Homo sapiens: one gene and its partners. The gene in region 1 interacts genetically with each later gene. Each region holds a gene or a part of one and is shown in the gene's direction. Other genes may lie near its edges. The genes, in order: ATM, PRKCA and ATR.

Region 1 (9,135 bases):
AGAAGCTCCCTTAAAAGTGGGAACCATTCTATTGTTTATTGTTGTATACCTAGTGTTTTTGTTTTGTTTTCTTTTTTTTCTTTTTATGTTTTTTTGAGACCAAGTCTCGCTCTGTTGCCCAGGCTGGAGTGTCATGGTATAATCTCAGCTCACTGCAGTCTCCACCTCCCAGGTTCAAGCGATTCTCCTGCCTCAGCCTCCCGAGTAGCTGGGATTATAGGTGCCCCGACAATGCCTGGCTAATTTTTCTACTTTTAATAGAGACGGGGTTTCGCCTTGTTGGTCAGCCTGGCCTCGAACTCCTGACCTCAGGTGATCCACCCGCTTCAGCCTCCCAAAGTGCTGGGATTGCAGGCGTTAGCCACCATGCCCGGCCCCCAATGTTTTCTCTTCTGGTGACTGATAATTATGTTTAGTAAACATTCAGTGGATAGTGGATGTCAGTTAATTTGTAAAAGGTGTTCAGAAGGAATTGCTTCTTATAATGGTGAGAGGGAAATGATCCAGGGATTTTGGAAGATGAAATAGTATAGTTACTCAGGATGCTGTAGATCTAAATTCTTTCCTTTTATCAAGATATAAGTTGATTAGCCCTAGAGAATTGTGCTTTTATTAAACATTTTCCAAAATAGTCACTGTAAAAATTCAAGTTTAAAAAATTCAGCTTAAAAGTGCTTTTCTCTTTATAACTTTTTCCCTGGCCCACCCAGATAAAATTGTTTCCTCATGTTTTTGCACAGCATGTTACACTCCATTCGGTTTTAGCACTGCATTGCATTACTGTCATTTTATCTCTGCCTTGCTACTAGATAAAAGAAGTGGAAGAGTTGTGTAAGGGCAGCCTTGAGTCTGGCAGGATGACAAAGTAAAGTGTTTTGGGTCCTCAGTTTCCTCATTTCTAAAGTCAGGGATTTGTATTCGATGGTCTCTAAAGCCCCTTTTAGCCCTGCTATTTTGAATTACTATTATTATTATACGAGGGAAGAAAGAGGATATAAATGACTAAGGTCACTCTACCTTTATGCAAAAATAAAATTTGGAATATGTTTTGGAAGTAGAAAAGAGAAGGAAATTTTAGAGTCAGAAGAAAATAATAATAGTTTTTTCAAAATGACATAGCAGAAGACATACATATTAATGTGGCTTAGGAGGAAAATAAAGGAACAAAAGTCTTTTCTGCTTTCATTCATAAGTACATTGGCAGTACTTACTGCCAGAAATCAAGAAATTTTTCCTCTGAATGAAAGATTATCCTGCTGAAAAGAGTACAGAATTCTTTAAGAAACAGTGAATAGAATGGTAGTAACCAGAGGCAGGGAAGGGTGTTGTGGAGGGAGAGGATGAAGAGGGGCTGGTTAATGAGTGAAAAAACACAGGTAAATAGAAGAAATAAGATCTAGTGTTTGATAGCACAATAGGGCAACTGTAGTTAACAGTAATTTACTGTATATTTTTAAATAGCTACAAAAGAAGATTTGGAATGTTTCCAACACAAATGATAAATGTTTGAGATCATGGATATCTCAATTACCCAAATTTGATCATTACACATTGTATGCTTGTATCAAAATATCACACGTACCTCATAAATATGTACAACTATTATGTATCCATAAAAATTAAAAATAAATTTTAAAAAGAAACACCTAAAGAATAATCTGGCTGTTTCTTTGGTAGAGAAATAGGAAGAAGAGAAGCAGAGGGAAGGTTGGATGAACTGGTGCACAAATGCTTATGCTCTCAGATTACATTCCATTCATATACATCAACCAAAACATTAAATAATAACAAACTAAATGCAGAAGCAGAGATAAGAATTCATCTCGTTCTGTTAATCCAGACATTAAAGAGATTTGCAAAAATGCAAAACAGTGCCATGCTCACTAAGTTTTGTTTTGTTTTGGGAAGTATACAGTTGAAATTCTTTATCTACAGGTTTCCATCTATGGATTCAACCAACCGCAGATCAAAAATATTTGAAAAAAAAATTTTAAAGAATAGGGTATAACACTTATTTACATAGCATTTACATTATAGTAGGTATAATATGTAATTAGAGATTTATGTATAACCTGTGCACATTCTCCTATTACACGTAATCTAGAGGTTATGTGTAATACTTTTTGGAAATGTTTAATAAAAGCACAATCTAGAGGTTACGTGTAATAGGAAAATGCCCTGCCATTTTAAATAAGGGACTTTGAACATCAGCATTATCAAGGTGTCTTGGAACCAATTTTCTGCAGATACAGAGAAACTACTGTAGTTATTTTTCCTAAAAATTGTTATTTATGATATATAGTAGATTTATTATTTTTGAATAAATTAATACATTTTAGATTTTTCTCAGTCTTTCTAATATGATATCATATCTAATATCAGTAGATATGGTCCAACGATCGAAAGTTCTTTGGGGTCTTCAATAATTTGTTTGATTGTAAAGGAGTTCCGCAAAAAGTTTGAGACCTGCTGTGGTAGGGTCATTTAGAGAGGAATTGAAGTTTTGGTTCCTAGCATTTTTGTTACTGTTCCTTCCCTATCAAGCAACTAAAAGAGCTTTCATTTCTTAGTCATCACTTTGTCATCTTACTCTCCCTGCTTCCTCTTTCTTATTTCTTTCAATAAATGTCCCTGAAGGATTGGGTAGTATTTCATAGTTCAGTTATTTGGGAAGGATACTATTCATATAAACTAATTGTGCAATATGCCTTTTCTGTTCCTTTAATAATGTTGGTAAATGAAACCTTTGCCAGATGCCAGCTTTTCCTTCACTGGATTGTGATTTTTTTGACAGCTATAATTATGCATCAAGTCATCCCCAGTAGGGGGTCCCTCATTTCCTTGCTGACATGTCCTCATTACTACAGGCAGTATTGAAGCAGGACTAAAGATGGAGGCATTCTTTATGATAGGTCTGATGAATATGTTCTTGTTTCAGAAGAGTATTTAGAAGGGCTGCTTTTTGTAATGTCAGAGTATTAAAAATTTTTTTTGATGTTTGTCATCTGTGACCTCTCTGCTAATAACTCTTAAGAGCTCTGACCGCATAGCATTTTGTAGTTTTCTAAATTTTGATCCATATGTAGGATTATTTACAAGTTCTAGTCTTGTCACTACAAAAGTTCCTTTGTATTATTATAATATTATATCGTAAGTTCCAGAACTTACATAGTTTTTTTTTTTTTTTTTTTCATTTCTCTTGCTTACATGAACTCTATGTCGTGGCATTCAGATCAGTCACACATAGACAACTCTCTGAAGTATATATTAAGTGGCAGAAACACTCCCAGCTTCTCAAGGACAGTGATTTTAGTTTTCAGGAGCCTATCATGGCTCTACGCACAGTCATTTTGGAGATCCTGATGGAAAAGGAAATGGACAACTCACAAAGAGAATGTATTAAGGACATTCTCACCAAACACCTTGTAGAACTCTCTATACTGGCCAGAACTTTCAAGAACACTCAGGTAAATACAATTTAAAACTATGTCATCTTACCTCTTGACTTTCCTTTTATTATTTAAAAAACAGAAAGCCTGAGGGAAAAAGAAATGTCATTAAGAGATAGAGATCTCTATTAATATATAGTAAAAATAATTGTTTAAGAGTTCCCATTTTGGAATTAGATCTGACTTTTAAGCCTTGGGCAAGGGTACTTAATCTTTTCTCAACCTCAATTTCCTGGTTATAAAATGAGAAGATACGTAACTTACTATATTGATAACAATTCAGTGATTTTATATACTGTGTGTATGTACACACAGATACACATACATACATATAGAGAGAGACAGACAGACAGACAGATAGGCAGACGTGGGGTGGGGAGATGTCATGCAGACAGAGAGGTCCTTAAGATAGTCCCTGACAAGTAGTTAAGTCCTCAATGAATGGTAGTTGCTGCTTTCATTATTATTATTATTCATGGTAGTAGTATCAGTAGTAAAAGTATTTATTCCCATATGTCATTTTCATTTCAGCTCCCTGAAAGGGCAATATTTCAAATTAAACAGTACAATTCAGTTAGCTGTGGAGTCTCTGAGTGGCAGCTGGAAGAAGCACAAGTATTCTGGGCAAAAAAGGAGCAGAGTCTTGCCCTGAGTATTCTCAAGCAAATGATCAAGAAGTTGGATGCCAGCTGTGCAGCGGTTTGTTTTTTTTATTGGCTGGATTAGTGTTTTACTGTTATTTAAAAAAACACAAATGTACTTTAAAATATTTTTAATAACAATTTTATTAGAGCCTTGAAATTAGTAATTTATTAACAAGATATTGTAAAACTAGTCTTGAAAATTAATTTGTAAATGAAGTTTAGAAACTTTTTCCTATATATCACAATTCTATCAGTCCATCATGTGGTCGATTCATTTAATATATCCCAGTATTAAGCCTTTAACTTCCTATAGAATTCAAGAAAGGTATGTGGGAAATGAATGAAATAGCTACTCTAAATTTGAAATGACAAGTGAAAAAAGGGAAGAGGAAATGAATGAGAGAACTAAATTAGAAAATAAAAGCAAGTTGGGACAATTAGGTTGTCAATCCAAATGCTTTGAAAATATCACATCTAATATTTTATCTAACATTACCTGTTGGTTTTTGCAAACTTATGTTGCTACTTCAGCTGTAAACCCAGCATACACACTGGATAAAGTAGAGGCATTGGTGTCCCCAAGGTTTGTCTACAGTGGTGTCCCACAGACATGTACCTGCTTAGTGAATATCAGCTCACTGTGCTTTATTATTTATTTATTTATTTATTTTTTGAGACGGAGTCTTGCTCTGTCACCCAGGCTGGAGTGCAGTGGTACGACATCGGCTCACCGCAACCTCCACCTCCCTGGTTCAAGCAATTCCCCTGCCTCAGCCTCCCTTGTAGCTGGGATTACAGGCACATGCCACCATGCCCAGCTAATTTTTTTGTATTTTTAGTAGAGATGGGGTTTCACCATGTTGGCAAGACTGGTCTCGAACTCCTGAGCTCAGGCAATCTACCCGCCTTGTCCTCTGAAAGTGCTGGGATTACAGGCGTGAGCCACCACGCCCGGCCTTTACTGTACTTTTTGATGTTGGGCACTCATTGTATAGCATCTTCTGTTATTAGAGAAATCATTATACCAAAGCACTGAGTGCCAATATGATATGTGTAAATATTGCTTAATAGTATTGGCCCTGAAGTATGTGCTGTCTGGAGTTACCCAACTTCCTTGTACCTCAGTTTTCTAATCTGCAAATTGGGGTAATAATAGTACTTATTTAATAGGATTCTTGTGAGAATTAAATGAGTTAATATATATAAAGCCTTTACAAAGTGTCTGACATATATAAGTACTCAATAAATGTGACTTGCTCCAATAATGGCAATAATAATAATAAACAGAGGATGATCATTTCCTACATGGGATTATTAAAATAGTTGTATGGCAAAAGCAGATGAGGAAAAACTTTTTTTTTCCCACCCACCAAGGAAAAACATTTTTAACCTGCTTTTTTCCCCGTACATGAAGGGCAGTTGGGTACAGTCATGGTAATGCATTATATTTTAAGATTTTGCCTTTCTTATACAGAACAATCCCAGCCTAAAACTTACATACACAGAATGTCTGAGGGTTTGTGGCAACTGGTTAGCAGAAACGTGCTTAGAAAATCCTGCGGTCATCATGCAGACCTATCTAGAAAAGGTAAGATTTTTGGAGCAACCCTTAAGATAGTTACTTAGCATGAATATGCTTCATCTTTTCATCAAGATCAATATATTTCCAAAGCAAATAAAAGTATGGTTTTATTTTTCTATATATTATTACTGTTGTAGCTCTGTATAGTCTCTAGGGTGGAGTGAAACATTGTTACAAAACAAAGCAGCCAATTTTGAAAGTAAGCCCAAGTATAGTATCTCTTCTTCCTCCTTCCTACCTCCACTACCAGCTACCCTTTCAGCAGGTTGCTTCTGATCATTTCTTCATTTATGCATCTACAAAAATAACTGATTAAGAATAGGCAAGTCAGCCCTTGCTCTTCATTAGCCCAGCCACCCACAAGTAAAGGCTTCAATATACTAGCCCCTTTGACTTTCCTGTTTCTCCCTCTTATTCCTTTAGATTCACTAATTTTGGAAATAGTTACCTCACTAAATAAGTGTAACATGAAACACATGATGCGATTGTCTTTCTTTTCTTTTCTTTTCTTTGAGATGAAGTCTCTCTCTGTCGCCCAAGCTGGAGTGCAGTGGCGCAATCTCGGCTCACTGCAACCTCTGCCTCCTGGGTTCAAGCGATTCTCCTGCCTCAGCTTCCCAAGTAGCTGGGACTACAGGAGTGTGCCACCACACCCGGCTAATATTTTTTATTTTTAGTAGAGACGGTTTCGCCACATTGGCCAGTCTGGTCTCGAACTCCTGACCTCAAGTGATCCACCTGCCTCGGCCTCCCAAAGTGCTGGCATTACAGGCTTGAGCCACCACACCCAGCCTGATTGTCTTTAAATTTTATAAAGTTCTCTGTTTTTGCAGAGTTCTTTACAAGTATTAGCTGTCTGGGTTATTTCTACACTGTCAAAGTTGTTTTGAAAAGTCAAGAAAATACCATAGTTCAGGGCTGTCCAATCTTTTGGCTTCCCTGGGCCACATTGCAAGAAGAATTGCCTTGGGCCACACATAAAATATACTAACATTAATGATAGCTAATGAGCTTAAAAAAAATCACAAAAGAAATCTCATAATGTTTTAAGAAAATGTACGAATTTGTGTTGGGCCACATTCAAAGCCGTCCTGGGCCACATGCGGCCCATGGGCCGTGGGTTGGACAAGTTTGCAATAGTTCATATAATTTAGCTAGCTTTTATATGTATATAAGTTAAATTTTAGTGTATTACCTTAATTTGAGTGATTCTTTAGATGTATTTAGTATTTGTAAATATAATTTAAATTGGTTGTGTTTTCTTGAAGGCAGTAGAAGTTGCTGGAAATTATGATGGAGAAAGTAGTGATGAGCTAAGAAATGGAAAAATGAAGGCATTTCTCTCATTAGCCCGGTTTTCAGATACTCAATACCAAAGAATTGAAAACTACATGAAATCATCGGAATTTGAAAACAAGCAAGCTCTCCTGAAAAGAGCCAAAGAGGAAGTAGGTCTCCTTAGGGAACATAAAATTCAGACAAACAGGTAACTAGGTTTCTACAAGTGACAATTTTATGTTCACCAGTTAACTGAGTGAGTGTTTTTGCATAGAAAGAGTGACTTGGTCTTTTTATCTGATATAGTTTTGAGCTCTAAAGGTCGGCTTAACTATATATAGATTATCTTGGTCTTTTGGGTTCTTTTCGGTTTTTGTTTTTTGTTTTTTTTTTTGAGACAAGGTCTCACTCTGTCACCCAGGCTGGAGTACAGTGGCGTGATCACTGTACTCCAGCTCACTGCAACCTCGACCTCCTGGACTCAATTGATTCTCCCCCTGAGCCCCCGAAATAGCTGGGGCTACAGGTGCACGCCATACCTGGCTAATTTTTGTATTTTTTGTAGAGATGGGGTTTTGCCATGTTGCCCAGGTTGGTCTCAAACTCATGGGCTCAAACGATCTGCCCACCTTGGCCGCCCAAAGTGCTGGGATTACAGGTGTGAGGCACTGTGCCCTGTCTGTCTTGGTCCTACTGTAGTTAATCACAAATTAGTATGTAAGATATTGACGTGTTCTTTTGTGAATAATTCATGCTCTGCTTCTAAGTTCATTGTGGAGAATATAGATATTAGCTTTCTGTTTTGCTTTTTTGGTTTGTTTGTTGGTATCATAGTGGAAAAGGAGATAGATATTGAAATTAATTACAAAAGTTACCTATTTTGATGTAATTAAATCCCTTTATTTAAGCCTGTCTTGAATCTGTATATTTTAGTGTAAGCAGAGGTGTAAGTTAGCTAAATAGCTTGGGGAGAGTCCCCTTTGTCCTTTGATGCTTAGGAAGGTGTGTGAATTGCACAGTTAAGACAAAAGTAAGTTTATTCCCTTTATAATCCTTAGAAGTTTGCTTTTTTCCCTGGGATAAAAACCCAACTTTTTTCATTAAATGTTGTATATCATGTGTGATTTTGTAGTTCTGTTAAAGTTCATGGCTTTTGTGTTTTACCTTAATTATTCTATGCAAGATACACAGTAAAGGTTCAGCGAGAGCTGGAGTTGGATGAATTAGCCCTGCGTGCACTGAAAGAGGATCGTAAACGCTTCTTATGTAAAGCAGTTGAAAATTATATCAACTGCTTATTAAGTGGAGAAGAACATGATATGTGGGTATTCCGACTTTGTTCCCTCTGGCTTGAAAATTCTGGAGTTTCTGAAGTCAATGGCATGATGAAGGCAAGTGTTACTCAGCCCAATATTCTACCCTGTGCTTGAAAAACTTAGACATAAGCCCCTTGATGTCAGGAATCGTGTATACCTCTTTGTATTCCTAGCACTTGGTCCAGTGCTCTACACATAAGTAGCATTTTGTAGTTTTCTAAACTTTGATCCATATTTAGGATTATTTACAAGTTCTAGTCTTGTTTCTACAAAAGTTCCTTTGTATTATATAAGCTGACAAGCTGTAAATGATGCAAGTTTGTGTGGAGGTGATAGAATTTAGCTTGGTCCTATGTCTTTGCAGTTACCATAGGAGAGGGTCTAGAATGGGGCATTAGATTGGAGGATTTAGAAAGCAGTTAAAGATGATGTGATCACAGGTGGGTTTTCCCCCTGCTGCAGAAATATGGGATTTTTACAATAAATTACTTTTGTAAGTAGAGAAAATATATTTTTCAGAAAATGTCAAGACAGCAGTATTGTATAAGTTTTTCTTTGAAAACCTTAGATTATAGTGATGACACCTAATATTAAATTTAAGTTGACAAGCTATATATTGTTAGTCAATTTGAAGGTTAGAGATAAAATGTTTCTCCTGCAGGAAAATAATAAGACTCATAATAGATACAGTCAATCTCTGCTGTAGTATACACTAAATATTACTTTTGGCCTATGGGGAAAAGCAATTACTTCATTTTATTGTACACTGACTTCTCAGGAATCAAGATCACAGTCACACTCAGATCACATTTGTCTTCCTTAGATTTTTTGGAATATAAACAGTACCAAGTATTCTAGTTCTGAAT
Region 2 (11,472 bases), on another chromosome or scaffold:
CCTTCTCTGCTGCTGATCCATAGTAAAGCCCCTTGAGTGCCTTCCTTATCTCCTTCACCATCATCTTGGTAACCACCAAGGTGTTGACTGGAGTGAGTTCCTGGAAAGAGCTCCAGAGCTAAGGTCTGCTGCACTAGGGAGGGAGGTGCACCCTCTCATTAAGAATGGGCAGGCGTGGTGGCTCATGCCTGTAATCCCAGCACTTTGGGAGGCCGAGGTGGGCGGATCACCTGAGGTCAGGAGTTCGAGACCAGGCTGCCCAACATGGCGAAACCCCATCTCTACTAAACATACAAAAAAATTAGCCATGCATGGTGGCGAATCCCAGCTACTCAAGAGGCTGAGGCAGGAGAATCGCTTGAACCTGGGAGGCGGAGGTTGCAGTGAGCTGAGATCGCGCCACTGCACTGCGCTTCAGCCTGGGCAACAAGAGCAAAACTCCGTCTCAGAAAAAAAAAAAAAAAAAAAGAATGTATCCAAGGCAAGAATCATTGCCCTAGGGCTCAGGGATGTGGCTGTGGAGGTCTAGCCAGGGACCAGGGTCCTGGACCTGTCAGCAGCTGACGCTTCTTACAACTAGCTCCTTCCCGTCAGGCAGATGTTCAAAATTCGGAGTCTTGTGCTGGGAGACTCAGCCCACTCCAGGCTTCTCCAGGGCTCCTTCGGTGACAGTGAGACTTCCCGTGGGTTTACTGACCTTCCTTTTTCTGCTGAGCCCTTTTACCTTTTGCCTTTGACATGGACTCTGAGGCCCTGGTGAGAGTCGTGAGGGCAGGGCCCCCTCTAGAGCTTCTAAAAACTCCTCTGGTAGCTCGCCCACCAGGCAGTGACCAGATATTCTTCAGGCGCAAAGGGCGCCTTGTGCTCCCTTTCTTTTTTTTTTTTTTTTTTTTTTTTTTTGAGACAGAGTCTTGCTCTGTCGCCAGGCTGGAGTGCAATGGCGCGATCTCAGCTCACTGCAACCTCCGCCCCCCGCCCCCCGGTTCAAGCGATTCTCCTGCCTCAGCCTCCCACGTAGCTGGGATTACAGGCACGCACCACCATGCCCAGCTGATTTTTGTATTTTTGGTAGAGACGGGGTTTCACCATGTTGGCCAGGCTGGTCTCAAACTCCAGACCTCAGGTGATCCACCCGCCTCGGCCTCCCAGAGTGCTGGGATCTCTTCTTATGCACATCACCATGTCTTTTTGTGAGTTCAACTCTTGATTTAAAAGAAAAAAAAAATCAAAAAAAAAAAAACAACCCAACCCCTGTTCTTACTGTGCATTTGAAAATAGCGATGAATCATCCCAATGGCTTTGCCATTTTAAGCAGTTCCTCTCCAGAGAACATTTTCCTCCCTTTTGGTGTGGGTACAAGTTTTCCTTTATGCAGATTAATTTTAAATTGGAAAATCTACAAATACAAAAAGCATCAGTACACAGTTTATTTCCTTTATTATGTTCATGGACCCGAAGCACTGTTTTTCCCAAGAAGTCGACTTTGACATACTGGAATTACAACCAACCAGCCCTTCACGGATCCCCACGCATCAATTCTAGGTTGACTGTGTAAAGAGTTGTCTCTTAATAGGGAGAGCAGTTTTCTGCTACCTTGCTGACTTTCCCTGTAGGGTGAGTGTAGCTGCTGATATCTGAACAGGTACTCAATTCTCACCCTTTGTTCCTTTTCTCACCCCATCCCACCTCCAAGCAAACATTAAACTCAGTTACAACACGGTGGTTTCTGTCACTCTTTCCCCAGAAAAATGACCCACGTGTTTCCCATTTGTGCTTGTTATTTAGAAAGCCAAACTTGGCCCTGCTGGCAACAAAGTCATCAGTCCCTCTGAAGACAGGAAACAACCTTCCAACAACCTTGACCGAGTGAAACTCACGGACTTCAATTTCCTCATGGTGTTGGGAAAGGGGAGTTTTGGAAAGGTAAGAGGACAGTCGTCTGCAAATTGCAGGGGCTTCTGCAGAGAATGTCGAATCAGTTTTGTTCTCCTCGTAGTTTGCAGAATAGCACATTAGATTTCCCTGTGATTCAAGGTCAGGAGATCAAGACCATCCTGGCTAACACGGTGAAGCCCCATCTCTACTAAAAATACAAAAAATTAGCTGGGCATGGTGGTGGGCGCCTGTAGTCCCAGCTACTTGGGAGGCTGAGGCAGGAGAATGGCGTGAACCTGGGAGGCGGAGCTTACAGTGAGCCGAGATCGCACCACTGCACTCCAGCCTGGGAGACAGTGAGACTCCGTCTCAAAAAAAAAAAAAAAAAAAGATTTCCCTGTGATTTGTACAGTCATCCAGAAGACCACCAGGATGGCTAAATGGTAGAAAGGAGAGGTTTATTGGTGGTATCAGTTTGCAAACCCATAAAAGAAAGTCTATGGTGTGAAATGAAGGTGCCCTCTCTTTGAGGAGAGAAAGGGCAGGTTGGGTTTTATGCCTCACAGGGTCCATGTTACACAGTAGAGTCATCCATATTCAACAGGTTTGGGGGGAAAGCTTGACTTATCTGTGAGGGAAGCCTAGCACAGGCACAATGGATGAACATATATGTAACATGCATCTTATGTTCACTTTGGGGTGGGGACTTAGCATTAAAATGAGGTGGAATTTGCCTAGGCATGGTGGCTCATGCCTGTAATCCCAGTACTTTGGGAGGCCAAGGCAGGTGGACCACTTGAGGTCAGGAGTTTGAGACCAGCCTGGCAAAAATGGTGAAACCCCATCTCTACTAAAAATACAAAAATTAGCTGGGTGTGGTGGTGTGCACCTGTGATCCCAGCTACTCGGGAAGCTGAGGCAGGAGAATCGCTGGAACCTGGGAGGTGGAGGTTGCAGTAAGCCAAGATCATGCCACTGCACTCCAGCCTGGGCAACAGAGGGAGACTCCGTCTCAAAAAAAGTAAATAAATAAAAAAAGGTGGAAGTTGGCTCTTTAGATCAAAAGGTGAACCACAGGACCCAAAAACAGTTTGTGTGCAGGCTCTGCAAGCTGCTGAAACTGGCTTCAGGTCTGCAGTTGCATCACAGAAAAGAATGTTTGTAAGGCCAGTTCTCTGTCCAGTCCAAGTCATAGTGATCTGAGTTGTCAATCAAAGTTAGGAGGGGCCTGATAGCTCCTACTGCTAGGGAGTTTAGCGAGAGTGGTTTATCTTGTAGCTGTAGGGATTTAGAAATTTGCCATGCCAGCTGGGCCCTGAACCCTCAACCCATAGATAACTATTTCCTTAACTTTAATGTTACCAGAAAGGGGTCCTGATCCAGACCCCAAGAGGAGGGTTCTTGGACCTCAAGCAAGAAAGAATTCAGAGCGAGTCCACAGAATAAAGTGAAAGTCAGTTTGTTAGAGAAGTAAAGAAATGAAAGAACAGCTACTCCATAGGCAGAGCAGCAGCATGGGCTGCTTGACTGAGTATACTTAGAGGTATTTCTTGATCGTATGCTAAACAAGGGTTTTATTATTCATGAGTTTTCTGGGAAAGGGGTGGGCAATTCCCAGAACTGAGGCTTCCTCCATCTTTTAGACTATATAAGGTAACTTCTGGGCATTGCCATGGCATTTGTAAACTGTTGGGGTGCTGGTGGGAGTGTCTTTTCACATGCTAATAATGCATATAATGAGCAATGAGGGTAGCCAGAGGTTATTCTCATCGCCATCTTGGATTTGGTGCGTTTTGGCTGGCTTCTTTACTGTATCCTGTTTTATCAGCAGGGTCTTTCTGACCTGTGTCTTGTGATACTAGCCCTGCTGACCTCCTATCTCATCCTGCGACTAAGAATGCCTGACCTCCTGGGAATGCGGCCCAGCAGATCTCAGCCTTATTTTTCCCATCCCTTATTCAAGATGGAGTCACTCTGGTTCAAATGCCTGCGACATTAGGGTCCATCTTAGTCGCTAAAGAGGCATTTATTTGGTCTCTCAGATCAGAGTGCACAGTCCTCACCTGGTTTCTACTTCCTTAAAAGCAACTGCATCCAAAAAGCTATAGTGGGTTCACTGTGTTGTTACTATTTCTCAGTGTTCAGAACAGAAGGGATGCTCAGAAATGCTGGTTGATGAATAGTTTTCACAACTAAAAATTAAATGTTCACTTGTAGTAAGCAAATACAATCATTAAGAGATACTGACATGGGGTCTTCAGCAATTTGCCTGTATCTCCATTCGGTTTCTGTGGCCCCACATTTCATAGACGCAGGAACTGATTTCAAGTCTAGGTTCTTGACTTGAGAGATTATAAATGTCAGTCAGCTTTCACTCTAAGGATACTCCTGAAAAATGTGCATTATTCCAGACTAATCCTGATAGAGAATGTTGAGTATTCATTTTAGCAGCCAAAATAGTGCCATTATGTGGCAGTGGCCTATACCATTTACAAATCTTGGCAGCATTGAAGTTTTGCAAATGCTGGAGGGACTGAATTTGTAGTGATGTGTAGAATTTACAAATTTGCACATAAAGTTTAATATTTTTATGTTCCACATTGACAAAGGTGCACAAACTGTCACTGAGCCGTCACCTGGCCTGGTTCCTTCCCTCTGCCCCCCAAGATATGTGCTTACAAGTGTTCAGGTTGTTCTTGACGTGTTCTCAGGTGATGCTTGCCGACAGGAAGGGCACAGAAGAACTGTATGCAATCAAAATCCTGAAGAAGGATGTGGTGATTCAGGATGATGACGTGGAGTGCACCATGGTAGAAAAGCGAGTCTTGGCCCTGCTTGACAAACCCCCGTTCTTGACGCAGCTGCACTCCTGCTTCCAGACAGTGGTAAGGACCCTGGGAATCCCTGCGATGCAGTACCCAGCTCTCAGAGCTACGCCTCAGCCCAAAGCTTCTTAGCATCCTTGTTCCTTTGGAGAAGGCTGGAGAAAGGTGTGTTGTGATGTCAAGCAGAGGTGACTGGGGACCACCTCCCACCTCTCTCACTGGTAGATTTGGGGCATGCCTTCTCTGTGATGTCCTCTGCTTGGCATTCATGCCATTTAATTCGGCAAACATTTCTTTTTCTTTTTCTTTCTTTCTTTCTTTTTTTTTTTTTTTTTTGAGACAGGATCTCACTCTCTCGCCCAGGCTAGAGTGCAGTGGCACAGTCACGGCCCACTGCAGTCTCAAGTAGTTGAGACCACAGATGTACCCCACCACACTCAGCTAATTTTTGTATTTTTAGTAGAGACGGGGGTTTCACCATGTTTCCCAGGCTGGTCTTAAACTCCTGAGCTCAAACGATCCCCCTACGTTGGCCTCCTAAAGTGCTGGGACTACAGGTGTGAGCCACTGTGCCTGGCCTTAATTCAGCAAACATTTCCATGAAAGGTTTTCTTCATGCCTGGTACTGTGCTCAGACTTTGGGATACAAAAACAAACAAACAAAAAAACTCACAGTCTTGGCTTTTTTTTTTTGAGACGGAGTCACTCTCTCTTCCCCAGGCTGGAGTGCAATGGTGCGATCTCTGCTCAATGCAACCTCCACCTCCCAGGCTCAAGGGATTCTCCTGCCTCAGCCTCTCGAGTAGCTGGGATTACAGGCCGCTGCCACCACGCCCGGCTAATTTTTGTATTTTTAGTAGAGATGGGGTTTCACCATGTTGGCCAGGCCGGTCTTGAACTTCTGACCTCAGGTGATCCACCCGCCTCGGCCTCCCAAAGTGCTGGGATTACAGGCATGAGCCACCGCACCTGGCCACAGTCTTGGCTTTTTAAGACCACTGGTTCCACTGCCAAACATGGCATTGGAGCATAAGGAGACTTGATTTTGTAAAAGAGCATGTTCTTGTTCAATGCCACACAACAGGGACTGGCAAACTGTGGCCTATTCTCTATGGCTTGTGAGTTTAGGAAAGGTCACAACAAGGAAATCCAAAGAGTCATATATCGTGACACGTGAAAATTAGGTCAAATTTTAAATTTCAGCATCCATAAACAGCTGTTTTGGGACATCACCACACTCCTTCGTGTACCTGTCATCTACAGCTGCTTTTGCACCATGAAGGCAGAGTTGAGTTGCTGCAAGAGACACTCACAGCCTAAAATATTAATACATACTGTCTGGCCCTTTGTGGAAAAAGTTTGCTGAGCTCTGTCGTAAAGTAAAACTAAACAGAGGACAAAAAAGGACATTCCAAAGCACTAATCAGTCCGTTGCAGGGCTTGCAAGTGGCCTACAAGAAACAGACATGGCCGGGCGCGGTGGCTCACGCCTGTAATCCCAGCACTGTGGGAGGCCAAGGCGGGCAGATCACGAGATCAGGAGATCGAGACCATCCTGGCTAACACGGTGAAACCCCGTCTCTACTAAATATACAAAAAAAAAAAAAAAAATTAGCCGGGCGTGGTGGCGGGCGCCTGTAGTCCCAGCTACTCGGGAGGCTGAGGCAGGAGAATGGCGTGAACCCGGGAGGTGGAGCTTGCAGTGAGCCGAGATGGCGCCACTGCACTCCAGCCTGGGCAACAGAGCAAGACTCTGTCTTAAAAAGAAAAAAAAGAAACATAGATGTTTAGATGCCACCATAGTGAGACGTTGCCAAAGCTGGTCTTTCCACTCCTCAGAGGCTGCCCATTTAAAATATGACTCCATAATCAGTAGCTGTAATTGATGCGATTATTACTATTTTCAACTGCCCATTGATCAGAGATTGACTTTCTGTCTTATGCCTCTTTGAAAACTCTTGGGAGGAACCTCTCAGTGCTTTTGTGTTTTAGAATCTCAAAATGGCTTTGCAGCCACCCGGAGCCTCTGGGTGTGTAGCAGTGGCCGCGGAGTCAGGCGCCGGCCACTACGTGTCAGCCTAGCGCTGGCGGCACGTTGAGCTTCCTGCTCCCAGCCGTTCCCACTGACTCTGAATCAAGTCACGCCAGGGAGAGATGAGAGCAGCATGCTCGGAAGAGACAACCACAGCTCTGAATCCCAGCCCAGAGCCTGTAACCCTGGTTACCCTGATTAAGCTCTGGAAAGCTACAAAACAAAGAAATGAAGATGAAATTAAAGTTCATAACAGGAAAGCTAGAGACTGGGGCTCCCAGGGTTGCTTCCTGGCTATTAGCACCAGCTTCATCATTTTTTTCTCCCTGTGCAGCACTTTAATGTTTAATATCCTCTGTGAAATGGGGATGTTTTCTAGCAGAGAGCAGAGGTCATTATTTCACTGTTAAACCCCTCCATCTTCCTATCTGTCCCAGCATAATGTCCTCAGGAATATGCAGATTTATTTGGGTCTATGATACATGCCCATCATGGGGCCAACACTTAGCCTACCAGTGACAGAGAAAATAGAAAAACAGTGTTTGGGCATATTACAGATGCAAAAGAACATTTGATTAGCATCTCCATCTAGAGTCCCCTGTCCCATGTCCAGTAAATATATTGAGCATGTGTAATCCTAAGCCTGAGAGATGTGTTTTCAGGAGTATCCATTTAAACACGATACTACATTAGTATGGCACGCCTCCCAGACACTGCAAACCAGCCTTTAAACATTTGGACCATGGAGAAGCACTAGTTAAAATGAAATAATTGCCTTATGTGGATTCCTCACACCATCCCTTACTTAGAAATTTATTATATGTATAGGAAGATAGGGAAGAATGTTCAAGGCCGTTACTATAATAGCATATGTAACAGGAAGGCACGTTGATGGAGAGCCATTATTTCAGGGTTATGTAATGACTTTATACTTCCCAAGGCCCTCATGCAGTAGGGTTTATTACTTATTCTTTCTTTGGAAAAAAATGTGAAAGAGCTCTAAACTGAGCACATCTGCCCATGCAGTCCCCATTTAACTAATGAGAAAGCAAAACACAACCTGTGAAGAGCAAAGGAAGCCACTTGGCTGGGGAGGAGCCCTGCTCATGTGTTGAACCTTGGTCTGCAGGATCGGCTGTACTTCGTCATGGAATATGTCAACGGTGGGGACCTCATGTACCACATTCAGCAAGTAGGAAAATTTAAGGAACCACAAGCAGTGTGAGTATTATTTTTTAAGTCCTTTAATTTGAACAACCAAGTCCTACCAACTGGAAACTTCCTTTTTTCCCCCCCGCTTGAGATTGGGGGTCTCACTCTGTCACTCAGGCTTTGCCTCCCAGGCTCGGGTGATTCTCCCACCTCAGCCTCCTGAGTAGCTGGGACTACAGGCACACACCACCATGCCTGGCTAATTTTCTGTTTTTGGTAGAGATGGGGTTTCACCATCTTGCCCAGGCTGGTCCCGAACTCCTGAGCTCAAGCTGTCTGCCCACCTCGGCCTCCCAAAGTGCGGGGATTACAGGCGTGAGTGAGCCACCATGCCCAGCCCCAACTGGGAACTTCTGCTGGGTGAAATGGGAAAGTGGGATTCTGCCCAGTTTTAGGTTGAATGTTATAAACCTAAACATGGGAGGCGGAGGGCAGATATACTGGTAGGATCCATCTAAGATGGTTCCTAAGGAGCAGTTTATTCTATTTCCAGTATTTCCAATAAACTGGAGATGTTGCCATATCCCATCATCACCCAGGTCCACCCTTGTTGATGGAGTTATTCTTATCTGTTGAACAAATGGTTATCACACACCTGCTCTGCACCAGGCACTGGGGTTGCGAAAGGAACGAGGTGCTCCCTTTCCAGAGGGAGTTTACACTCCACCCTGGAGGTGGAGAAGTCACCTAACAATTAATAGTGCGTTGCTGTAACTTTAGAGACTTGCGCAGGATACCAGGATAACACGTAAGCCCCTAAAAATCGGGGAGAGGGAAGTGCAACCCCACGAAATGACCGGCTCAGAGGTGGGGGAAGAGCCTTCCAGGAAGAGATGTGAACAGAGGCAGAAGCAAGTCCAGGGAAGCAGCCTTGCAGCTCAGCAGGTGTGGGAGATGCTGTGAGATTATTTGAGGGGCGGGGGAAGGGGGGAACGTGGTAGGTGGGGCTCTGGGTGAAGAGCCTGGTAAGGAGCCTGGCTGTGGAGGAGGGAAGAGGGAAGGCACTGCAGTGGGGCTTGCACCATCAGATTCAGTTTTTGCAGAGCTCTCTGGGGGAAGAAGGAAGCATGAAAGGAAATGGTAGAGGCTGGTGCAGGCGCTGGTGAGACCCTTTATAGATAAGAAGGAATGGAGCTGTAGTTAGGGCTAGACCTTGGAGCCAAAGAGGAATAAGTGTCTTTGAAAAACACCCTGGAGGAAGAAAAGCAGAACTTATTGACTATGGAGGAGAGAAGAGATAAACCTCTTCCAGTGAGACCCCATTTCAGGCTTGGGTCGGGGCAGCCACCAAGGAGGAGGTGGTTTGAGGGGGGAGATTCATGAGCTCAGTTAAGAACGTTTTATTGGAACGCACCTGCATGATGGGATGCGGGAGTCGGCAGCACAGGAGGAAGACGTGGGCTCCAGGTGAAGATGAGAGATTCATCTGAGGGGTGTGGGGAGCTGGAACTTTGGTGCTGGAAAACATCATCTCACCTCTCAGGGGCCAGGAAGTCTCAGGAAACACCAGTGGAGCAAGCCTAAACAAAGGGCGAGTTTAGTTCCGCAGTGAGGAAACCTCGGGGGCATGTACCCTGATGAATGAAGTCAGCACCTGTTAATAGGATTCTGGCTGCTGTGCCATCTAAGAGACACATTGGAAGAATTTTTGGCCTGCGAGGGATTATGCACCCTAGGGAAGATTAACTGAAGGCAGAATAGGGAAATCTTTGGTTGCAAGCTTTAAAAGTGTGAAGGGGGATTTTTCTGCCTTTATTGATTGTTCCTTTTCAGTTTTCAGAAATGCCTGTCCTTTTCTTCTGTCTTATGTTGTAGTTATAAAGCCTTAAAATACTCAGATTGTAAAATAAAGCTTGGTCACACAGGACTGTAAAGAGCAGATAGCAGAGTCACCCTATGTTATAAAGTAACATAAAGGTGTCTGGTCCAATATCCTTTCATTATATTATTTGTGTTGCAGAAAAGTTTAGAAAAGCATGAAAAATAATGTAAAGATCACCTGTAGTAATCCCATCTCTTCACCCTCCCCCTTTCTGTACTCTTCTAGCCTTCAGAGGTGGCCCCTCGTTAAGGGTTTGGTCTTGATCATTAGAGATTTTTTTTCCTCTCTGCTCGTGTAGACACGTGTGCTTATTTTGAGCCTCCTGCATGTGATATTTCCACAGGCACAGTCTTGTGGCTTCTTCGACTTCAAAGACTCCTGAATGCTATGCAGATTTTTAAATATTCGCCTCCTTTTAATCTGAGTTTCAGCTATTAATGTATTAACAATTTTGAAGTGATGGTAGTTACTGCTTTTTATTATGAATTATTTAAAAGAGTAAACTCAGATATGAATCTCTCCAACACTCGCAAGGAATGAAAACACTAGCTAAAGAGTTCATCACCCACTATACTTTGCCTTCCAGGGAGTAATTGTATTGTATTTTCAAACACCAGTGTATTCTGCCAGTGAATAGGAAAATGGAAATTTTCTTTACGCCATACTCCTGATATAGAATAGTCTAACTGGTATCCACTCTTTAAATGATTGTATGAGAAATTACTCTGCAGGCAATAAGCTACTTGTCCACCTTCCCCATAAGAGAATAAGAAGCCGGTTTCATTGGTTTTATTAGCTGTCTCATTCACGGATAAGCTGGAGGACGAAGTGATGGAGGGAGGACCGGGGGTTGGAAGAACACGATGCTGGTCTCTGAGAGCCTCTGGGTCTGACATTCTTTTCTCTCTTTGATGCTTGAATTTGAGAATGTAAAGTATACAGGCATCTAAGGAAGCAAGTGAGAAACCTGAAGCCCGTTTTCTTTTGCAGATTCTATGCGGCAGAGATTTCCATCGGATTGTTCTTTCTTCATAAAAGAGGAATCATTTATAGGTGTGTATTGAAGCCCTCCTACCAGCAGCTCAGCAGAGAGGTTAGCTGGGCCTCTGTGGGCATGTCATTCTGGAATGGTGACTTAAGACACAGAGTTGATAACTCCCCAGGAGGAACAGAGACCTGCTGGGACCCACCTTCCTCCTCACCCTGGAGGCAAATCAGAGCCACCTTCTGATTTCTAGACCGCAAAGACTTTATATCTTGTTTCTACTTTTTCCACAAGAAAACACATTTTTCTCTCCATTGACAGCTCCTTCCACTGCCTTTTCTTTGGAATGGAGGTCAGGGAGCAATGGAAACTGAATTCCTGTTATAGATGTTCAGCAGAAGAAGAACACAGGGAACTGGGGAGAGGCAAGGAAAAAAATCTATTGAATTAAATTCTGCCTGTTAGTAGCTGTGCTGAAAGTCTGGTGCCAAAGAAGGAAGAATTTCTTCCAGTATTAATTGAAGCATAATTAGAAGGATATATGGCACAGGCAGAATGGAAGGGACATGTGTATGACCCAGTGAAGTGGTTCTAAACCCGTGATTTTGCAAACCTGGTCATGTGTCAGACCCCCTGTGTGGGACATGAATAAATCAAATGATTGAGACTTTCCCAGACGTGCTCAATTGGAATCTCTAGAGTCACAGACATAGGCAAGATT
Region 3 (11,472 bases), on another chromosome or scaffold:
ATGCGTATTAGGATGGAGAGAACTTAGAAGAGTGATACTGTAAAGCTAGTACTGAATTTGAAGTCCAAGAGCATAGGTTTAGGTTCTGACTCAATTAGTTATTAGTTATGTGAATAAGGGCAGATCAGTTCATTTTACTGAGACTCAGTTTTAGAGAGACAGAGTAGTTTAATACGATAGTTTCCAATTCTAGCAACATATCAGAATTATCCAAGAATTAAAAAAAAATTTATAGATACCCAGGAGATTCAGATTCTGTAGGTCCAGAGTGGGACCTGGGAATAAATTGAGGCAATTGGACCCATCTTTAAGGCCCCCTACAATTTTCCAATATTATAATCCTGCAGGGCAGACTGGTAGGTTAGCGCACTATTTTCTTCACCTCCATCATCTACAGGTTGCCTTGTGCTGTCACAAGAAACCAAGAAAGATCATAGATCCAACTGAGAACAAATCAGAGATAAAATACTGGCATGGGTTAAACCATACAAGAGAGGAATTTAGGGTAACTGATTGGACAAGGGATGAAAGGTCCCTAGAAAAGGCAGATTAGAGGACAGCAGAAAATGAACAACTGGACTTCATTATATGACATGTTTTATTTCCTTTATGAGGGGATGTGAGCATCTGACCCTTGGCTGCTTCTGTTGTTTTAAGATGAAAGTGTTAAAGAAAAGTAGAAATATATGAGAATATTTGTATTTCATATTATTCAAGAAAGACATTAAAGAAGTTAATATGAGACTAAATATTGAATGCATAAAATTTCTCTGTAATACTGCTTATTCACTGTACTAAACTCAGTGAAAGGTAAGTCCACTTATCTCCTAGATCTTATCCAAGATCAAGTATGGTTTCAGTTCTGTAAAAGCAAAGGCAGAGCTACATGGCTCCTTCATGTTACAAACTTCTAAAGTAATTACAACATAAATATTTTGAGGGTATTTTTGCTTTTTGCTAAAAGAATCTGGACATGAAGTTCTTTGAGTAAAGATTTTTAAATTCTAACATTGTTAGTTTGTAATAAAATGTATTGTTTCTAAGGGAGAAACCTTTGAAGTTCCAGAAATTGTGCCATTTCGCCTGACTCATAATATGGTTAATGGAATGGGTCCTATGGGAACAGAGGGTCTTTTTCGAAGAGCATGTGAAGTTACAATGAGGCTGATGCGTGATCAGCGAGAGCCTTTAATGAGGTAATCACCTATACTTTGTAAATAATTTAACAGTAACCTCGAATATAATTATTGGCCCCTACATATGTTTGTTTTTATGTAGAAACCACTTTGTACTGACTGAAATAGTTTTTTTAAATAATAGCTTTATGCAGATATAATTTATATACCATAAATTCACCCCTTTAAAAGTACATAATTCAGTGGTTTTTAGTATATTCACAAGATTGTGCATCCATTACCACTATCTAATTTTAAAACATTTTCATCAGCCCAAAAAGAAATTCCGTAGGCATTAGCAGTCACTCCTGATCCCTTCCCCCTCCCACCCCTGCTATCTACTTGTAACCACTCATTTATAATATTTTCTGTCTCTATGGATTTACCTATTCAGGACATTTCATATAAATGGAATCATCTAATATGTGGCCTTTTGTGTTTGTCTTCTTTCACTTAATGTAATATTTTCAGTGTTCATCATGTATCAGTACTTCATTGTTTTTTATTGCCAAATGGTATCCTGTTATATGGATATACTACATTTTCTTTTTCTGTTCATCAGTTAAGAGACATTTGGATTGTTTCCACCTTTTGTGTATTATAAATAGTGTGGCTGTGAACATTGTGCACAAGTTTTATGTGGACATATGTTTTCAGTTCTCTTGTGTATACCTGGGAGTGGAATTGCTGGGTCATATGTTAAATGCTGTACTTAACATTTTGAAGAACTCTCAAATCATTTTCCAAAGCAGTTGTAACACTTTATAATCCCACTAGTAATGTATGTGGGTTTCAACTTCTCTGCATCTTTTCTATCTTTAGATAACATCTTTATCTATCCTGGTTATTGTCTGCCTTTTTTATTTTAGCCATTCTAGGGATGTGAAGTTGTATCTCATTGTGGTTTTAATTTGCACTTCCCTAATGACCAGTGATGGTGAGCATCTTTTCATGTCTTTGTTGGCCATTTGTAGATCATCTTTGGACAAATGTCTATTGAAATCCTTTGCCCACTTTTAAATTGGGTTTTTTTATTCTTTTTTTTTTTCCTTTGAGACAGGGTTTCGCTCTGTCACCCAGTCTGGAGTGCAGTGGCGTGATCTTGGCTCACTGCAACATCTGCCTCCTGGGTTCAAACGATTCTCGTGCCTCAGCTTCCTAAGTAGCTGGGACAGCATGTGTGCATGAGCCACTATGTCTGGCTGATTCTTGCATTTTTAGTAGAGATTGGGTTTTACCACGTTGGCCAGGCTGGTCTTGAACTCCTGACCTCAAGTGATCCTCCCACCTTGGCCTCCCAAAGTGCTGGGATTATAGGCATGAGCCACCATGCCTGGCCTATTCTTGAGTTGCAAGAGTTTGTTTCTTTGTTTGAGACAGAGTCGCCCAGGCTGGAGTGCAGTAACGTGATCTCCACTCACTGCAACCTCCGCTTCGTGGGTTCAAGTGATTTCCCTGCCTCAGCCTCCCCAGCAGAGAAGGGGTTTTGCCATGTTGCCCAGACTGGTCTTGAACTCGTAAGCTCAAGCCATCCACCTTCCTCAGCCTCCCAAAGTGCTGGGATTACAGGCATGAGCCACCCCGCCCAGCCAAGTTGCAAGAGTTCTTTACACATTTTGGATACAAGACCTTTTAAGATATGATTTTCAAATATTTTCTTCCATCTGTGGGTTGTCTCTTCACTTTCTTTGATGATGGCCTTTGAAACATAAAAGTTTTAAATTTTGATGCAGTCTAATTTGTTTTTTTCTTCTGGTTATTTTTGGTGTTTCTGTTGTCATATCTAAGAAACTATTCCCTAATCCAAAGTCATGAAGATTTACACCTATGTGTTCTTCTAAGCATTTTTGACTTTTAGCTCTGCTATTTAAATCTTTTATCTGTCTTCAGTTATTTTGTAGATATGGTGTAAGGTAGGGGTCCATATTCATTTTTTTGCATGTGCATATCCATTAGTCACAGCACCATTTTTTGAAAAGAATATTTTGCCCCTCGTTTAATTATCTTGGCTTTTTTGTTGAAATGGTCAATTGATTTTCAGCAATATTCTGTTGATCTATATGCCTAACCTTATGCTAACAACACAGTGTTTTGATTGTTGTACCTTTGTAGTAAATTTTGAAATCATAAAGTGTGAGTGTTCCAACTTTGCTTTTTTTCCCCCAAGATCATTTAGCTATTATGGGTCCCTTGTATTTCCATATTAATTTTAAAATCAGCTTGGATTTTGATAGGAAGGACATTGAATTTGTAAATCAATTAGGGAGTATTGCTGTCTTAACAATTTGGGAGTATTGCTGTCTTAACCATGTTAAGTCTTCTGATCGATGAACATAGAATGTTTTTCCATTTATTTGAATTTTATTTTTTTCATCAATGTTTTGTGGTTTTTAGGGTCAAGTTTTATATTTAACTTTTAAAAATTGTATTCCTAAGTATTTTATTCCTTTTGATTTTATTCTAAATGGAATTTTTCTTAATTTCATTTTTGGATTGTTCATTGCTAGTGCATAGATATATAATTGATATTTATATATTGATATTGTATCTTACAATCTGCTGAATTCATGTATTAGTTCTAATAATTATTTTTGTGCCTTCCTTAAGATTTTCTCTCCACAATAACATGTCACCTGCAGATACAGTTTTTCTTCTTCCTTTTTAATATCAATGCCTTTTATTTCTTTTTCTTGCCTACTTGCCCTAACTAAATCAGTGTCGAATAGACATGCTAAAAGTGGACATCCTTGTCTTGTTCCTGATCTTAGGGGTAGAGCAGTCAGTCTTTGACTTTTAAGTATGATGTTAGCTGTGGGAAACAGATTGTTTGAAAGGACTTTTAAAGCTTATTTATTCACCTTCATTATTTAAAAGCTGTCTATCGGGCCGGGCGCGGTGGCTCACGCCTGTAATCCCAGCACTTTGGGAGGCCGAGGCGGGCGGATCACGAGGTCAGGAGATCAAGACCATCCTGGCTAACACGGTGAAACCCTGTCTCTACTAAAAATACAAAAAATTAGCCGGGCGAGGTGGCGGGCGCCTGTAGTCCCAGCTACTCGGGAGGCTGAGGCAGGAGAATGGCGTGAACCCCAGGGGGCGGAGCCTGCAGTGAGCCGAGATTGCGCCACTGCACTCCAGCCTGGGCGACAGCGAGACTCCGTCTCAAAAAAAAAAAAAAAAAAAAAAAGCTGTCTATCAGACATTATGGTAGAATACTGGTTAGTTGGACATATGCAAAAGCAAATTCTCTGAAATAGGAAGTATATCATCATGTGGAACAGTTACCAAGAGCCCCTGTGTTAGTCTGGGTCAGTCAAGAAATAATTTCTGGAGGAAGTAGTTGAGACCTTAAAAGTTAATAAAGTTGACCATGCAAGGGAGAAGAGAGTGTTCTGAGTGATAAAAATATCAAGGCAAGTGAAGTCATGGCCTGCCTGAGAAATACAGTATGTATTCCAGAGGGTATACTTCCAGGAGGTGGTGCTAAGAGATGACGCAGGACAGGTAAGCAGGGGCTAGATTATGAAGGTCTCACATGGGGCCTGTTACTACATTATAACTTTGCCTGCAGAGCAACCAGAAGTCATTGAGGATTTTAAGAAGGAATAAAAAGGGGGCAAGGGGTGGAAAGAGATAATCTGATTTGTACTGTAGAAAAAATAGGGTCCTAGTTTGGGCCAACAGCCAGAAAACTAGTTAGAGGTTTATTGCAGTAACCCAGGAAAGGATGATGGTGTACTGGATAGTGTCACGGCCGTAGAGACGGAGATAACTGAAGAGATTCCAAAGAGATTTAGGAGTTGTAATTGCATGTTAGAGGAAGACGGGGTGAGGATGATTCCTAGATTTTTGTCTAGGGCAAATGGGTGGATGATGATTTGGGGAATACAGGAGAAATAGTTGGGAAAAGGTAATTAATTTTATTTTGGAGATACTGAGTTTGAGGTGTTTGGAACATATCCAACTGGGTATTTCCCATAGGTAATTGGATTTGATGTTTAGGGTGCAGAAAAAAGGTCTGGGCTAGGTCTATATGGTAGCTATAGATGTTATATCGTTATTGAAGACATGGTAAGGGATAAAATTCCTTCATTCAAAATATAGTCATTTACCAGTTCACAGTATACACTTAGAGATGGCACATAGAACCCATCTTACTCTATTCTCCAAAACACCTCTGACTCCCCTCTATCTTGCCTTTTTTCCTGCCTTCCCTTCTCTTACCCTCCCCTCACACCAAAACAGAAATTTCACATAACTTAATGAAGACGTAGTAATGTGTATTATAAGAGTATTACCATTAGCTTCTCATCCTTCACTTAAATATTGATGTCAGCAAGATTTCTTCTTGCAAAGATAACATCATACCATAATATTTGTTTCAATTTTAGTGTCTTAAAGACTTTTCTACATGATCCTCTTGTGGAATGGAGTAAACCAGTGAAAGGGCATTCCAAAGCGCCACTGAATGAAACTGGAGAAGTTGTCAATGAAAAGGTTAGTAGAAGGTATAGCTTGATATGGGCTGTAGTCCTCATCTCTACAAATGAACTTGATATGCAGCTATAGTTCTCATCTCTATGCATGAGAACTGCTTGGAAATACTGTTAGTGACTATTGATTACTCTGAAATCTAGTTCTCTAGTATCACAATGCCATAAGTTTTCTTTATTGTCAGTAATGTTAACAGTATTCGCATTTGTATAATAAAAGTTCATGGCACACTTGTTTAACCATAGACAATTCACAGTTATGAGATACAGTAGGAAAAACTATAGTACAAATTGCCTGAACTTACAGAACAACAGGTCTGAGCTTTAATATCATGATACCAGTATGTCACAAGCTATGTTAACAAATGCAGCAATTCACTTCTTACTTAGTTGAAGCTGCAAAGTTTGCAGATAGTTTTGTTGTTGTTGTTGTGGTGGTGGTGGTGGTTGTTGTTTTTGAGACAGAGTCTCGCTCTGTCATCCAGGCTGGAGTACAGTGGCACGATCTTGGCTCACGGCAACCTCTGCCTCCTGGGTTCAAGCAGTTCTCCTGCCTTAGCCTCCCAAGTAGCTGGGATTATAAGCGTGCACCACCACAGCTGGCTAATTATTATATTTTTAGTAGAGATGGGTTTCACCATGTTGGCCAGGCTGGTCTTGAACCCCTGGCTTCAAGTGATCCACCCACCTCAGCATCCCAAAATGCAGGGATTATAGGCATAAGCCACTGTGCCTAGCTCAGATAGTTGTTTTTAATAAGTTAGAATAGATTGAGGATTCGTTTTTTTTGGTGGGGGGCACTCTTACATCTTTAATAAGTCTTGTACAGGCTTACTAAATACAATGAATTATACCAACTATATGCTAATAAAGATTAAAAATTTACATTCCAGTTAACTACCTAAAGAGTTTAAGTCCACTTTCATCCTACTGATATAGCTCGAGGAAGGCTAGACCTGTACGCCCCCATCCTTCATGTCATCCTTAACCCTTTGTCTTGAGAAAGAAGGTTTAGCTGCTTCTTTAGTTCTTCTAAAAGAACTAAAAGAAAAATTTCTTTTTCTTGCTCTATTATCTTCATCTGTAGGGTGAGATTAATATTTCCAGAATTGTGGAAAAATTCACTCTGTAGCAGTTGAAGAGCAGATGGTCTCTGGGACATGTTCCTTTTCGTTAAGTGATAGATATACTTGGCTTGTACTGGATACCTTTTACTGAGGGATTCCAATATCTGACCAGTTCTTGAACCTGTTAAAACTTCTGCTCGCTCCATTTCTGTTCTAAACAGCTGAAAGAGCTCTAGCAGGATCACACTCAAGCTATATACATATCTAACTGGACAAAGCCAGCCCTGGTCTCTACAAATAGTTTTTGTTTTTTTTTAATTAGCTGGGCTCAGTGGCACACTCCTGTAGTCCCAGCTACTTGGGAGGCTGAGGTGGGAGGATCACTTGACCCCAGGAGTTGGAGGCTGCTGTGAGCTATGATGACACCACTGCACTCCAGCCTGGGCAACAGAGTGAGACCCTTGGCATCATACTCAGATCCTTCCAACTGCTGGGATGAAGCATACAGACAAGTGCCCACTCTGGATATAGGTGTTGGTGTTCTCTTTCTGTTTCTATGGGTCCAGTCTGTGTTCTTTTGTAAGATGTCTGGGCAAGCCAGACCAAAGTCTCCTATTTTTACTTGCTGATCAGGGCCATGAAGAAAAATATTTCTAGGCTTCAGATCTCTGTTTACAATACCCATGTTATGTATGTAAAACACACCTTCCACTAAATCTTGAAAATTTTTTGTTGCAACACTGGCCATAAGGACAGGCAAACTTGCCCACACACTCTTGGCCCTGTTTGTTTCTCTCAGCTAGCCAGTCCCACAGCTGGAGCTTGCACACCTGCATCTGGATGTGCAGCATCAGGTGGTACTGCACCTCGATCCCCAACAAGTTGAAGTTTTCTTTGGAAGATTCCTCAGTGGATGTGAAATTCTCCTCTAGGAGGGAATTACACCTGAGCAGCAGGGGCTGTTTCACAATTGACCAGGTAGACAAACCAGCCAGGCCATTTTCCTGGAGCTCCAGGGATGATTCATATTCACTGGTGTCTCTTAAGACGGAATTGATGGTGTAGTTCACAGCTTGTTGTTCTGATTTTGAGTGTCAGATTCTGCAAAGGGTTTTTCTTTTCTGAGGTGAGCTCCGCGAAGATAATGGGTGAGCTGCTATTTTCACCATTTTTAACACCGTATTGGTATCTGTCTGCTTGGTCGGAGAACACTTCCAGAAATGGCAACTGAACGGAAGCTCTGTCTGCTTGTGGTTGGACCACTTGAACATGTTCTGTCCACGCAGTGTGATAACGAATGATATTAGGGTGCTGAAGACCTGCCAGCACCTTCATTCCCCGTAGTTCTTTCATGTAATGTGTTTTTGTTGCACCCTTAATCAGGATTTTTTAAATTGCATAATACTGACCATCTAATTTATTCCTGACCTTGTATACTCTTCCATATCCACCTTTTCCTAAGATGGCAAGTTCTTCAAATTCATTTAAGTAACGTGAAGTTTGTGCTTCAAAGGGTACTTCCCTTGATCTGATTTTCTGGATATGAGAAATAGCCTCACAAGGATCCTGATGAACTCTCTCTTTAGTGGACCTCATTAAGTGAGTAATAGCTCTGTGGTGATGTAGTCTCAATGAGCTAAACTTGTCACAAGTGAAAGAAGACAGCAGCCCCATTTTGATAAAGGTCTGGCAAAGTAACTTAAACACTGTCTTGAATGAACTGGGTTTGGTTCACGCACATGGCTCAAGTGCTTCACCAAAGAAATAAGCGGCAGCTGGTTTGCAACTGCAAAAGGGAAAGTTGGCTGTTGTAGGGGTTATTTTAATACCTGGAGTTCTGCTGGAACATAAGTCATATTTGGAGTCCAGGCTCTTGGCGGAAAAGTCGATGGCAGATGGCACAGCAACAGTCTCCACCCCGTGGCCCTCCTCTTTGTGCTCGTGGGCTGCAGCGCAGCCCACCAGCCCACCCAGCACCACCTCTGAGAATTATTCTTCTAATAACGTTATTCTTCCTTTTGCATTCAGATATGCTTAAGAAATTGTACAGTTCCAAGTAGCTCACTTAGAACACCCATTTGCATGTACTAACATAATGTAAATATTAGGCAGTACAGCATTGTTATTTGAATATTCATTGAAATGTTTAAGTCCTAAACACTTCCAAAGCAGATTTAAAAAATTATTTTTCTAGAATTGTAATGTGTAAATAATTCCCTGGTATTTCACGTAGTCCAGAAACATGTCCAAGCAGTTGATGTTGAATCAATCTTGCGAGCCTCCAAATCAGTATCACAAGCTAACTGTATTTGTTTAATTTCTTCTTTTCCTGTATTTGCTCTTACAAAAGGGGTATTGGTCAGTAAAATGGTATTAACATTTATTAAATGTCAAAATATAAAGAAAGGTAGTAATTCCAAATTATTAACATCTGTTTTTGGTTTTATGTTTCTTCTTTTTAGGCCAAGACCCATGTTCTTGACATTGAGCAGCGACTACAAGGTGTAATCAAGACTCGAAATAGAGTGACAGGACTGCCGTTATCTATTGAAGGACATGTGCATTACCTTATACAGGAAGCTACTGATGAAAACTTACTATGCCAGATGTATCTTGGTTGGACTCCATATATGTGAAATGAAATTATGTAAAAGAATATGTTAATAATCTAAAAGTAATGCATTTGGTATGAATCTGTGGTTGTATCTGTTCAATTCTAAAGTACAACATAAATTTACGTTCTCAGCAACTGTTATTTCTCTCTGATCATTAATTATATGTAAAATAATATACATTCAGTTATTAAGAAATAAACTGCTTTCTTAATACATACTGTGCATTATAATTGGAGAAATAGAATATCATGTGTTCTTATGGTCAAAAACTATATTTGCAAGAAACAAGCAAGTCTAATTTCATTTTACAACTTCTATTGATTTCCTTTTAAAAGTCCTAGCTATTGTAAGGATTCACTTGAAGAACAAAATTATATGGAATAAATACTGTGGGCAAGGCGTTGTGCCAGACTTGTGCATAGAGCTACCCTCTCCTGCCCTCCAGGAAGTGACAGTCTAGTAAGAGAGATATATAAATATAAATAGCATATCATTAAGTTCACTTAATAAAACTTTGTTTTAAAGTGTGATAGGGAAAAAATATAAGCCAAGAAGCGTGAATGTGAAAACGAAATAAACATTCTGTAATTTGTGTGATGCTGCCATACTGCAGTCCCAGAATGCAGAATCCAGTGGTCATGAAAGACAGCGATACTTAACATTTCCTGAGATCTTAAAATCCAAAAAGTATTAAATGTTTAAGGTTTTTCTGTAAGTTTTCATCCAGAAGACTTAAATACAAAGTAACGGGTTAATACATTCAAATAAGTGGAAAACTCTTACATTTAAAACTGATAATTTCACTTAAGTTGATAGAACTCTCCTTTGCTGTGCGGTTGAAAGTGTGATGGGGAAAAATATGATAAACCCGGATGCAAGAATGTCAAAACTAAACATTAAATGATTTCGTATCCAAGGTCTTATGTTAACAGTTGCGGGGGGCGGGTACATGGGAAATTTTTTTGAACAATTTGGAAAAGAACGTTTTTAAACGTATGTATTAAGAAACGTAAGTTTAAATTCCTCAGAGAAAAAAAATTATTGACAAAACAACAAACTAAGCCAAGTAAATCACCAGATCTTTCGAAATCTGAATGAAAAATACTGAGATTAGCAACCCTAGGAGACAAGCGGAACAAAAATCAGTGTTCGATACCCTTCCCACACCTTCGTACGGTTTTCATGCCACTTCCAAATCCACTTAGAAAGCACAACTCTATCATGGGGCATTTTCGCCCCTAAGTTGCAACACACCAGCAAACCTCCGCAGATTCCCTGACCGCCACTGGACAGTACCGCGGCCCCGGCCGCGCGAGGCCCGGAGGGCTAAGCCCCGCCCCTCGGACGGCCTCGGATCCTGCCGCTCTAGGCCCGCCGGGCGCTCTCTATGGTCGGCCGGGCGGTGTGTTGTCATCCGCGGAGCGACGACCGGAGGCTGCGGCGGAGCCCCGGCGGGGCGTTTGGTTTCGGTTTGGCCCTGACTGGGATTAGTGTTGACGATCGAAATGGGAGTCCCCAAGTTTTACAGATGGATCTCAGAGCGGTATCCCTGTCTCAGCGAAGTGGTGAAAGAGCATCAGGTGGGTGAGCGAGGGGCAACGGCTCAGAAAGCCGAGGACCCGGGGCTCCGCGGCCCTCTCCACCTTAGAGCTGGGGCTTTCGAGCCACCTCTTTCCCCTCGTCGTCTGGACGATTAGTGGCATTAGGGAGGGGGACGGAAGGTTTGAGGACGCCCGGATGAGCCGAAAGGGGCTAAGGACGCAGGTTGCCTGTGTGTGGACAGAGCCGCTGGGTTCACGGCTTCTCTGACAGCTCTTGCTTCTGCTGGTCCTTCCGCGACTCCGAAATGAAGTCCTGGGAAAGAACGCTTTTACTGTTCTCCGGTTTCCTCCCGGGGAGCTGCAAGTTGCCTTTTTCCTTACAGAGGCTGCGAAGCTGGAGTGGGTGTCCTCGTAGGTTCCCCCATCCCACCCAGAGCGGCAGACCCACTTACAGACGATAACAGCCGCTTCCGCACGCAGTCACCTTGTTTACTTTCCCTGATCTAGAGCGCGGCCCACCCGGCCCCCGGAGCCTAGACTTTCCGACGTGGCTGATGGTCATATTGGTGATGCCTTTTGTT

What was found.
Region 2: changes in ATM (region 1) and PRKCA are lethal when combined (synthetic lethality), as found in Homo sapiens cells (one study listed by BioGRID).
Region 3: changes in ATM (region 1) and ATR are lethal when combined (synthetic lethality), as found in Homo sapiens cells (one study listed by BioGRID).

What each region holds. Positions count from the first base shown.
Region 1 is NC_000011.10:108,322,078-108,331,212, forward strand, and holds part of ATM (serine-protein kinase ATM), read left to right. Parts: intron 1-3,232; coding exon 3,233-3,467; intron 3,468-3,980; coding exon 3,981-4,148; intron 4,149-5,567; coding exon 5,568-5,681; intron 5,682-6,943; coding exon 6,944-7,161; intron 7,162-8,136; coding exon 8,137-8,344; intron 8,345-9,121; exon of another isoform or gene 9,122-9,135.
Region 2 is NC_000017.11:66,730,903-66,742,374, forward strand, and holds part of PRKCA (protein kinase C alpha type), read left to right. Parts: intron 1-1,785; coding exon 1,786-1,923; intron 1,924-4,586; coding exon 4,587-4,760; intron 4,761-7,861; coding exon 7,862-7,953; intron 7,954-10,756; coding exon 10,757-10,819; intron 10,820-11,472. UniProt on the Homo sapiens protein: Calcium-activated, phospholipid- and diacylglycerol (DAG)-dependent serine/threonine-protein kinase that is involved in positive and negative regulation of cell proliferation, apoptosis, differentiation, migration and adhesion, tumorigenesis, cardiac hypertrophy, angiogenesis, platelet function and inflammation, by directly phosphorylating targets such as RAF1, BCL2, CSPG4, TNNT2/CTNT, or activating signaling cascade involving MAPK1/3 (ERK1/2) and RAP1GAP.
Region 3 is NC_000003.12:142,447,328-142,458,799, reverse strand, and holds the end of ATR (serine/threonine-protein kinase ATR), read left to right. Parts: intron 1-1,044; coding exon 1,045-1,196; intron 1,197-5,566; coding exon 5,567-5,672; coding exon of another isoform or gene 5,673-5,744; exon of another isoform or gene 5,745-8,197; coding exon of another isoform or gene 8,198-8,227; exon of another isoform or gene 8,228-8,241; intron 8,242-9,197; coding exon 9,198-9,371; 3' UTR 9,372-9,565; downstream 9,566-11,472. Other genes in the region: XRN1 (5'-3' exoribonuclease 1), read left to right, coding at 10,856-10,930. UniProt on the Homo sapiens protein: Serine/threonine protein kinase which activates checkpoint signaling upon genotoxic stresses such as ionizing radiation (IR), ultraviolet light (UV), or DNA replication stalling, thereby acting as a DNA damage sensor.